2 separate regions of the Homo sapiens genome follow, and region 2 is linked to region 1. Evidence: fine-mapped expression QTL. Tissue or cell type: lung. Region 1 holds a variant in brackets; the other region holds the start of a gene. All regions are shown on one strand. Distances are from middle to middle.

Region 1 (5,217 bases):
CAGACTGACCTCACCATGAACATTCAGCACGAAAAAGCCATTTTCAAGGAGCTAATGTCCAATATACTTTTTTTTAAGATGGAGTTTTTAAAGACGGAGTTTCGCTCTTTCACCCAGGCTGGAGTGAAGTGGCGCGATCTGGGCTCACTGCAACCTCGGATCCCCGGGTTCAAGTGATTCTCCTGCCTCACCCTCCCGTGTAGCTGGGATTACAGGCGCCTGCCACTACGCCCGGCTAGTTTTTTGTACTTTTAGTGGAGACGGGGTTTCACCATGTTGGTCAGGCTGGTCTCAAACTCCTGACCTCAGGTGATCCACCTGCCTTGGCCTCCCGAAGTGCTAGGATTACAGGCGTGAGCCACCGCGCCCAGCCCACAGCATACATTTTTATATGATAAGGTACATCATCTCAGAAGACAGACAGAATAGCTTCAGATATGAACCTCAGAAAGAAGTTCAAAAGGCAAAGAGATCTGCTTCAAAAAGAAAAATCAAAAGTTGAAGGTCTTGCTCCAAAAGAGGGATTTAATTTAAATTACTCCAAAAAGAATGACTGACTGATATCCAAAGAAGAAAAAAGTCTTTGCATTCCTGACATCTGATATCTTAATGCATGATACATAAAAAGCAATATATTTCAAGGACACACTAATAATCCCCCATGCAAAGGGGGGATTATCCTCCAGGGGGGGAATGGGGGGAGAGAGAGACACAGAGAGAGAGAGAGAGAAAGTACATACACAAGCCTGCCTGTTACTGGAGGAGCATGGGTGCCAGGATCTTTGACCCAAGGGTCCAAAAGCTTGGCTGAATACAGCATTTCAGTTGTGCCCTGAAGTGAAAGCAGTAAAATAAAGACCAAAGAAAGCTCTACGTTTAAAGTCAAGACCAAATTGCATAAGAACCAAGGATGTAACCTAGGATAAATGCCTAGCAGAACAAAAAAACACCCAGCATTTTGAAGGTGATGGCAGGCTGTGAGAAGGCAGGTTGTAGAAATGATGAGGTTGTTTTATGGCATGCTTTTATTGGCTGTATTAGAGAGAATGTGAGGGTGGGTTGGGTATGTCCTTGAAGTTATAGGACTTTGGTTTAAATAAACTTTGTTGCACATCCAGTAATAATAGGCAAGCCATTTCTTATTCTTGGTTTTTATTTTCTTCTCTTTTGTTCTGGCTTTTTTTCCATAATTCCTGCCTTAGTTAATGACACCACCACTTCCCTCTTGGAGCAACCCAGAAAGAAGGGAGTCATCCTAACTCTTCCTCCTGCCACCACACGTAATCTTTGTCTTTAAACAGACTCAGTGTGTTTCACTTAAGTAAATATATTTGGAAAGAAAACTTCATATTACTTACTAAAAGGGAAAATGACTATTAGTTCTATAAAAGAAATCTATTTTTTTTAAATTAATGAAAATGAAATTACATCATTAAATGTTGGCAGAAATTCATTTACTCTTTGTTAGAAAGGCTGATTGGAAAATACCATTTAAGGCCAGGCACAGTGGCTCACACCTGTAATCCCAGCATTTTGGGAAGCTGAGGTGAGTGGATCACCTGAGGTCAGGAGCTCGAGACCAGCCTGCACAACGTGGCAAAACCCAATCTCTACTAAAAATACAAAAACTTAGCCAGGCGTGGTGGCGGGCGCCTGTAATCCCAGCTGCTTGGGAGGCTGAGGCAGGAGAATCACTTGAACCCGGGGGGCGGAGGTTGCAGTGAGCTGAGATTGCACCACTGCACTCCAGCCTGGGCGACAAGAGTGAAACTCCATCTCAAAAAAAAAAAAATACCATTTAAGACACAGATTAGCATCAACCTAAGCCTTTCTCCGGAAGTTAATTAGAGGGGGTAACAGATAATTAAAAATTTTTTTAAATCATGCGACAATATGATTTCATGCTTCATCCTCATACAACCAAAATGTTATTTGTGAATGAGTCCCACACTTTGGGAAGCACTAGACTATGATATACAATTCAAACTCAGTAGCCTGCTATGATCTTACTCCCAATTCCCTTTTGATCTGATTTCCTGCCACTCCACAAGCCATATTTACAACTCTATTCCTGCTAAAGGACGTATCATTTGGCCCTGGGCATTCTCCATTGTGTCTACTGAGAAACCTATTAGGCCTCTGAAGAGGTTCTTGATGTAAAGTTTTCAGACCCCACCCAGGCACCTTTCTCCTTAGTATGAGCAAAGGTTATCACCTTGACCAAAC[G/A]CTAGCAGGCTCCTCTGAGTTCTCTTGTTGACTAGGACTCAAGCTTACCTTTCTAGGTTGAACAAACACTAAGGCAGTTTCTAACAGCTCAACATTGTTTACTTAGGATGAGCCTATCCCCCACTTAAAGTCCAAGCCTGATAAAGAATTTCCTGTTGTCCCAGCCAACACCTGGAGACCAGCATCCCGCTTTCCAGTCTCTGTGGGAGGGGAGGAGCCGAACTTCAATAAACACCAGTAAACAAAGCTAGATGGGTTTCACGTGGACTAACCTCGTTTCTGGATTTTTGTAATTTTTCATTTTCCTGAAAAACTATGGAATCCCAACTCACCTTCTCCCTGCTCCTTCATTCTCCCATTAAAATACCTAATCACCTCTGTACAGGTCATTGTTGAGCTTAGTTCACGTTGCACTCTTTTCCCTATTGTAATACTATATATTAATTCTTACCATTTTATTTAGTGTCCAGCATTGTTTATCTTTCGCAGCATTTCATAGCTACTTCTAATGCACTATATTCTCATTATTCATTGAACTATCACTCTCACCCGCTATGCTGTGTTCTGTTTTGTACTCCGAGTCCTGAGGTCAGCCCCAGTATTGGGATCACTCCTGTAATCCCAGCACTTTGGGAGGCCGAGGAGGGTGGATCACGAGGTCAGGAGATCGAGACCATCCTGGTGAACACGGTGAAACCCCGTCTCTACTGAAAATACAAAAAAAAGTTAGCCGGGCTTGGTGGCGGGCGCCTGTAGTCCCAGCTACTCGGGAGCCTGAGGCAGGAGAATGGCGTGAACCCGGGAGGCGGAGCTTGCAGTGAGCCGAGATGGCGCCACTGCACTCCAGCCTGGGCGACAGAGCGAGACTCCCTCTCCAAAAAAAAAGAAAGGGGGAACTAAGTTACCTGACTGCTATGAACAGGGTCATGAGGAGAGACTCTAACACATTGCTTTAGTTTTGTTTCAACTTCCAAATCATAAGAGGGACATTACACATTGCATTCAATTCTATAGTGTAAAAATAAAATAAAAATATCAGCTTACTTTCCTTCTTTCTTAGTTTGTCGGTATCATTTTTAATTCTAATGTTTTGTTAAACCTCACACCTTCCTCTTTTGAATTTCTACTTCCTTTTAAAATGGCAATTGCCTTTTTATTTTCATATCTTTTGTCTTATATTAGTAAGAGCATTTCTCTAATTATAACATGGGGAATTTACATGTGGGTTACAGGGGAGACTAGATTTTTACATCAAAATTAATTTTGTTTTATTTGCTCCTAATTTATAGGTGAAAATGTTATTTTACATGGAAACCTATTTTGTTCCATAAAACTAAATAAACCATAACCCAGAAGTGCAATGAGACACACACAGCATGACCACATTATTTCTGAAAGCTGAAGAGTTGCCAGTCTGTTGATCTCAAACTTCATGAACCACACAGTTCAGTTCAAATTGTTTCCCTGAAATTGCTTTGAGCCTCTGCCAAACAGCCACTGAAGGACTCCGAAAAATACAAGGTAAGGAGATGGCACCTAAGAACATTTTTTTAAAAATGTTAACTCTTTTATTGAAGTTTATTTCATTGCTTTTATCAAAGAGACTGATGTCACATCAGACATTTCCTCACCTAAAGGTAACACGCAATAATTGCCATGATAGCATACTATTCAGAACATGGAACCAAATGTGTGGCCTGCATGGGCATTCTTCCTTTGCCAATGAATTGCAAATGCTTCTTTCTATCTACAAGTGTACCAACGTTAAACATTAAATGTGGAGGTCTTATAGTGGGTTGATCTTTAGAAAATCAGGTCTCCTTTCTGTTTTCAGTTGCTGCCAGCATCACCTATCCACAGAATCAATGTTAATGATGTTAATGAAACCAGGCAATATATTAAAAGCTCTAGCCACAATCATTAACTCGAGTCTGGAGTAAACCATGTATTCCAGGGCCCAGTATGCAGAGCGCCTGTGAGGTGTCAGCAAGCTGCAGATATCCAACAATGCTGTTACCTAAACTTCACTTTTGTGTGCCTGTCATTGTAGGCATCCTCCACTCCACACCCTAAGCTAAACCATCACTTGTTGAACAGGGGCCCTGCCTCATGACTAGTATTTGGCCTTGAACTTCACACTCCGTTCCCTAGACACTGGCTGGAGCTTTGCTTCTAACTGAATGGGCCTTATCTTTCTCTTGCCTAGCACTAAAGCCCTAACATTGCCTGCAATTCCTATTGTCATACCCTCCCCACCAGATTCCAACCCCTGATAAATCATTCCTGGCCCAGAAACATAGTTCCACTACCCTGGGATATGATGATTTGGAATGCTGGTGACTCACCCGACTTTTAGACCCTTAGTGCTAACCCCTTTGTTCTTTCTTACTTCTTTTTCCCTGACTTAAGACCCAGCATATGTCAAAGCAGATATGGTATGTAAGATAATGTCAGTGTGCAAAAAGCACTCATCGTATGAAGAAACTTAAGTGTATCTTTTAAGTCAATGCAAATAATCACCACAATTAATATGTTTTGTGGATTTTAACTTTTTTAATGAAAACAAACTTTTGCATTTTCTCTAATGAGAAAAAAGTATAGTTTCCTTTTGTTTTATTTATTTTTTCATCATTTGATAAGGCACAGGATCAAGTTATTCTTTTTGAGATGCCATAATATGCTAGGTATTGGAATGGCCAGCTAGCACTTGCATTGTATAGTTAACATTGTGCTATAAGCGTGGTTCTTTCTAAAAGCTTTCAGTACTGTTTATAGTTTGTGCTACCCAGTTCCCATGGTAACGTGTTTGTTCCCATGGAGAAACAAAGTGAACACCTAACCAGAGCTGAACTTGAAGATATAAAACTTCACTCAGTAGATAATTTGCTCAGAGGCTATTAAGGAGGAGAAGGAGAAAACAGAAGAACAGAAAATATATCTAGGTTTCTAGTTCCAGTTCAAAGTTAAGAAACTACTGATTTACTTTGACCT
Region 2 (5,118 bases), 88 kb before region 1:
TGTTATAAAGGAAGCTTAAACAAGTGTTTGGAGAAGTTTAAGTCATATCAAAAACAACAAAACTTATTTCTGAAGAATTGAAACTAAGTCAAAAAATATAACTTTCTCAATCTGTAATCTTAATGTTATTGTTATTGATTGATCAGTCCATATGTTTCCGAAAATCATTTAATGTGCGAAAGTTTGGAAAACACTGCTGTACGTGAGATACTTTCATGACCTTTTCCTGCCCATCTCAACTCTGCACATTTTTCCAGGCCTGCTTAAAGTTCCACCACCTCCCACAATGTCCTCTTGAAATTCAGGGCACTGTGACTGCCCCTTCCTCTGGCAGCCTGGGTACGCGTCTCTTCTGTGTTTTAGGAAGTCACTCCACTCTGCTTCTGAATGACTCATATACATCTCAAGTTTATTTATTTATTTATTTATTTATTTATTTATTTATTTGGTCTCCAGTAATTATAGTTGAAAGAAAGGTTTTTGAAGGTGTCTTTTTAATCCCCTGATACTGAGCATCACACTTTCTGTGGAGTGACTCTATGAACAGCATGAATGACTAATGAATTAGCACTTACTCTCTTTAACTATTTATGAGGTCATATCTCTGCTAGTAGATAAGGATCCCCTCAAGGGCTGTGCATGAGTTTCTTCTAGCCTCTAAACCCAGCCCAGGGGGAGTATATTGCAGGATTGCTAGAAATCTTTGTCAATTGAATGAATGACACTTCCTAGAGACACTACACCATAGACGGCACTTGACAACAACAAAAAAAGCCACCCTTTTAGAAGTATACAGTGTTCAGTGCCTCTGCAGCTTTCCTCCACCTTTGGAGAATTACAAGTTTCATTCTAATTCTATCCTGGACTTGCTGACATAGGGTTTACATTTATTAATATATGGCATATCACATGTAAAACTCTGCACAGTCATCTGAAATGCTGGTTGTTATCACCTTCACTTATCACCAAATGCCATAAGGGATGTTTAGTCTTAATAGACACCTAGGCATATGTGTGGTCTTTCAAGAAAGAATTCTCTAAAAATTCAACAGACATGTCTTCAAGTTCAAAATTAGTATAATTCCAAAATGTCTTTTGTCCTCCAAATCAGCCAATACATTTTAAGATAAGATGGTGTTTAACAAACTTTGCCTTAATAGTTTTTATTATCTCTAAAACACAAACAGATAAAAATATTCTATTTGTAAATTAGCTACAAGGAAGTTGAGAAAACTGGAATAAATAATATTTTTGCTTTAAGTTTTAAAAATGAGTCATAACTAAAGCTTTTAAGCAAATTGTAACTAATAATTATGACTTCATAATTTCTAGATTCTGTACACTACCCATGAAATCATATTAAAAATCGCTATTATGAATAAAAGATAATCATGTAATTAAGTTCAGGGGGGCATAAAAGAATCACCACTGAGGTTAAGACAACTTTAAGAATATACCTGAAATTCATCATTATCACCCAGTAATTGCTATGTAAAAACCAGACATTAACATAGATAAGTCAATATCAATCCTAAATTAGACCCACTGAATATAGACTTAAGACATTTTTAGGAAATTAGGAAGACCTTTAATAAATGGAAGGCATTGGAATTTTCACTACATGCTTTTTGATCTTAAAAATAAATTTTTTAAAATCTATCTTTATTAATTGTGGTAAAAAACTTAACATACAATTTACCATCCTAACCATTTGTAAGTGTTTACACTTACAAATTTTAAGTTCAATAGTATTAAATATATTTACATTATTGTACAGTCTCCAAGTGTTTTCATCTTGTAAACTGAAACTCTATATCCATTAAACAACTCTCATTTCTCCTTCCCCCAAGCCCCTGGCAACTACCATTCTAAGTATCATTTATGTGAGTTTGACTACTCCAGATACCTCAGGTAAGTTGAATCATCCAGTATTTGTCTTTTTGTTTCTTTGGTGTGTTTTCCAAGCTTAATTGAAACTTAATTAGGATGAAGCCAAGTTACCCTCCATCATGTATCATCTGTCTATTCAGTACAATGCACTGTGCTAATTTAATGACCCCCTTAACTTAATTACATGATTATCTTTTATTCATAATTTAATGCTATTAACCTAATGAGGTAGGTTATGCACACACACTTTACAGATGAGGAAACTGAGACTTTGCGAGGTGAAACATCTTGTCAATGGTCATAAATCTAATAAGCAGTGGGGCTGCTGATTGCAACTTTATCTATCTTCAAAGCACAGTCTTTTTAACATACCTGTATGCTTTTTGAGATATTTAAAGTTTTTAGGGGATTTCAGCCATCTACATATTTTAAGCAACTCATAGAGTGTTTTGTTTTTGCCTTTGATGGTTAATGTGACCTGGGTTCCTCCTTTTTTTTAAAATAAACTACTTTATTCTAAACCATGTCTCAAGGTATTATTCTATTCTATGTCATGAGGTTTATTCTAACACATGTCCCATAAGCCCACAGAATACCAGTTACCTTCCCTTTATTTAAGCAGGGCTTGATTTGTTAAGCAGCTGGTTTGTTACATTTTTCTGGAAATTATACAACTTCCTAGTGTGTAGCACATATCAATAGTGAAAGGAATATTATTTTTAAAAAATCAGCACTTACATTTGTGGAAGTGAGCCCAAGCTTCTTCAGTTCAGACACATGGTTTTAGTGAATAGAAGTCACTCTACCAAACCCGGGTACTCTTCAAACATGCCTTGCTCCGTATGCAGGCAGGCAACTGCACCCCTGCTTCCTGAGCCACCTGGGACTTGAAGTTCTACCACTGTGGCTCCAAAGCTGCCCAACTAGAAACCCCAAAAGGCAAGAGAACTACGATACCCACAATTCAGGCTCCTCACCCGAAACCAGAAGAGGGCGTATGGCTAGAGTTTCACCCTAAGAAGAAAGGGGAAGCAGGTGGAAAAGCAATTAAAAAAAAATCAGGTGAGTATATCTAAGAACCATCTGTAAATATAATCTTATTTCCATGAAAGGAAATAAAAGTGGTTTAATGTTTGCCAGGGAGTAAGAAGGCACCCTCAGTGTTAGCAATAAGTAAAAAATATTTATGCAAGCAAATCCTCATGCAGCTGGAACTTGCCCCACCAGATTCTCTTTCGGTGATTCAGAGCTGAAGGTGCCTCACTGCCCTGTGGAACAGGTGAATAAAGCCTTCCCAGGTGAGTGACAGTGTCTAACTAGTTCCCCCTTTCCCTCTACATCAGCACTGTGATTGTCACTCAAAGACATAGACATATAGACATAATGGAGACCTTTTGGCATTTCATCTTCTAAAATGCTCTGGATTTTTAAGATAACACTTTAAAATGTGCCTTTTAAAATATAAGCAAGAATAAAGTTTTCTTGATATTTTCTTCCATTTTACTTTCCATTTCTGTGTTTTGTGTTTTCCTTCTGTGTATTTTGTTCAAAATTCAAGAAAGAGAAAATTAGGGGAAAGGGGAAAAAAGGTAAAACTTAGTGAAATGAAATGTGCAATAATTGTTTCACATTTTTTTCCAACATCAGCAACAGAGAATGTTTAAAACAAATGTGTTTCTCTATTTGTTCATACAGCATCTCTCTCTAGCCTATTATCTCCTGTTAGACACAGCCCAGAAAATGAATAGAGACAAGTCCTGGCTGGGTCTGGGTTCAGAAACATAATAGAAGGATTCATCTAATGTAAGTAGATGGCAGAATGGTGACAAAGAAAAAGTTTCCTTTCCCTTTTCTGCACTTTCTCTCCTACTGTTCTAACCACCCCTTCCTCCCTGATGCATCCCTGGCTTCATGCTGCCAGATCACCTAATCCACCCAGATTCCCTTTGAAGTTTCCCCTTGACTCATCCCACAATCCAAACTGAGCTGTTCTGTTTCTTTTTGTCACAGGTTCCTCAACTCTCTACTAGAACCTAGCTTTCCTTTATGTCATTATATTATTTCCAAAACAAATGGTTCTTAATTTCCCCAAACCCTACAGAGGGCATTCTGCATGGCATTTCTCCTCCCTGAAACCATTTTTGCTCATCTTGAAATGTTCAGAGATTTCATTTTTTCCAAAGCTCAATGAAAAACACTCTTCAAGATGTCCTTCTCAGTTTGTCTTAATCTGAGTTATTCTCTTCCTCCTAATCAATTTCATAATATTGCATCTGCTCCTCTCATAACACATTGTATATCTCATTTCATTGGTTTACATGGGTGTGTGTGTACCTATGCAGTCTTACATTCCTATTTGAAGGCAAGGCCTCATTGTATCCCTACTTCATTAACTCATTAATGTACAAGTAGATGTTTGTGATAAACAATCAACACATAAAATAACTGAGATGTTAACTCTAAGGTGTGTGTGTGTTAATGCCTAATGCCATCTTTATGTCTCCCGGAAAACATTTACATTTAAAAAGCTACCTAAATGCCATGCATGAGTACTGTTATCAGAATCCCCCTGCAGTCTGGTCTGGTGTGGCTCCCACAGCCTTTATTTGCAGAAAGGCAAAGCATTAAATCTAGCAATTGAACCCTTGACAGTACCCGAAATGAAAGCCCTAGTGGGTCAGCACTCACTGTTTACCAGCTCCAATCCCTGCTGTGCACTTGCCTTTCTAACAGCTCCCCAAGGACTGGGCTCCCTAGAGTCCTCAGTCCCATGGTCCTGGAAACCTGGCCCTACCTCTATCTATGATTTTTGATTATCAGCTCCAGCATTTATGGATCCCTTCTCCTATTATCTAATCTACGGGCTCTAAAGATTAAACTGTGCACTTTGGACTATTTAAATAGTTCTTAACCACTGATCTCCTCCCTCAGGGAAGGGAATTCTTTCCACAGTTGCTAGTTCCTCACACCTCTGCCTCTATGGGATTCTCCTGGTCCCCACATGCTCTGCTGTGTCTTCTAGCTGTCGGCCACTGTGGAGGAAGTGAACCTTCTAGATCCTGCTGACTCATACAATGAGTTTTGTGTGGACCATCAGACAAAAGGGCTGGCTGGTGAAGGTGGCTGTTGTCTGGAAATTCCTCCCAGCTCTCCTCTAATTATGTCATAAGGACTGGAGGCCCCTTAGCCTGCTTGTGTGAGTATCACCAGCTATGTAAAGTTGGGGCC

What was found. PIP is the estimated chance that this variant, and not a neighbour inherited with it, causes the effect.
Region 2: MACC1 starts here. The variant in region 1 is fine-mapped to the expression of MACC1 in lung (TOPMed, PIP above 0.99).

Annotation. Positions count from the first base shown.
Region 1 is chr7:20,302,277-20,307,493 of GRCh38, forward strand. It overlaps LOC101927769 (a long non-coding RNA gene), which reads left to right. Exons shown (of 5, transcript NR_110117.1): 4 at 3,516-3,747. Among named protein-coding and RNA genes, the nearest start is that of ITGB8, 26 kb to the right of the region's middle. The variant G/A (reference allele first, on the strand shown) is at 2,227.
Region 2 is chr7:20,214,671-20,219,788 of GRCh38, forward strand. It overlaps MACC1 (MET transcriptional regulator MACC1), which reads right to left and starts at 2,714. Exons shown (of 7, transcript NM_182762.4): 1 at 2,629-2,714. It overlaps GIRGL (glutamine insufficiency regulator of glutaminase lncRNA), which reads left to right and starts at 2,907. Exons shown (of 4, transcript NR_134569.1): 1 at 2,907-2,952; 2 at 3,586-3,693; 3 at 4,913-5,086. RefSeq lists an enhancer at 2,539-3,738.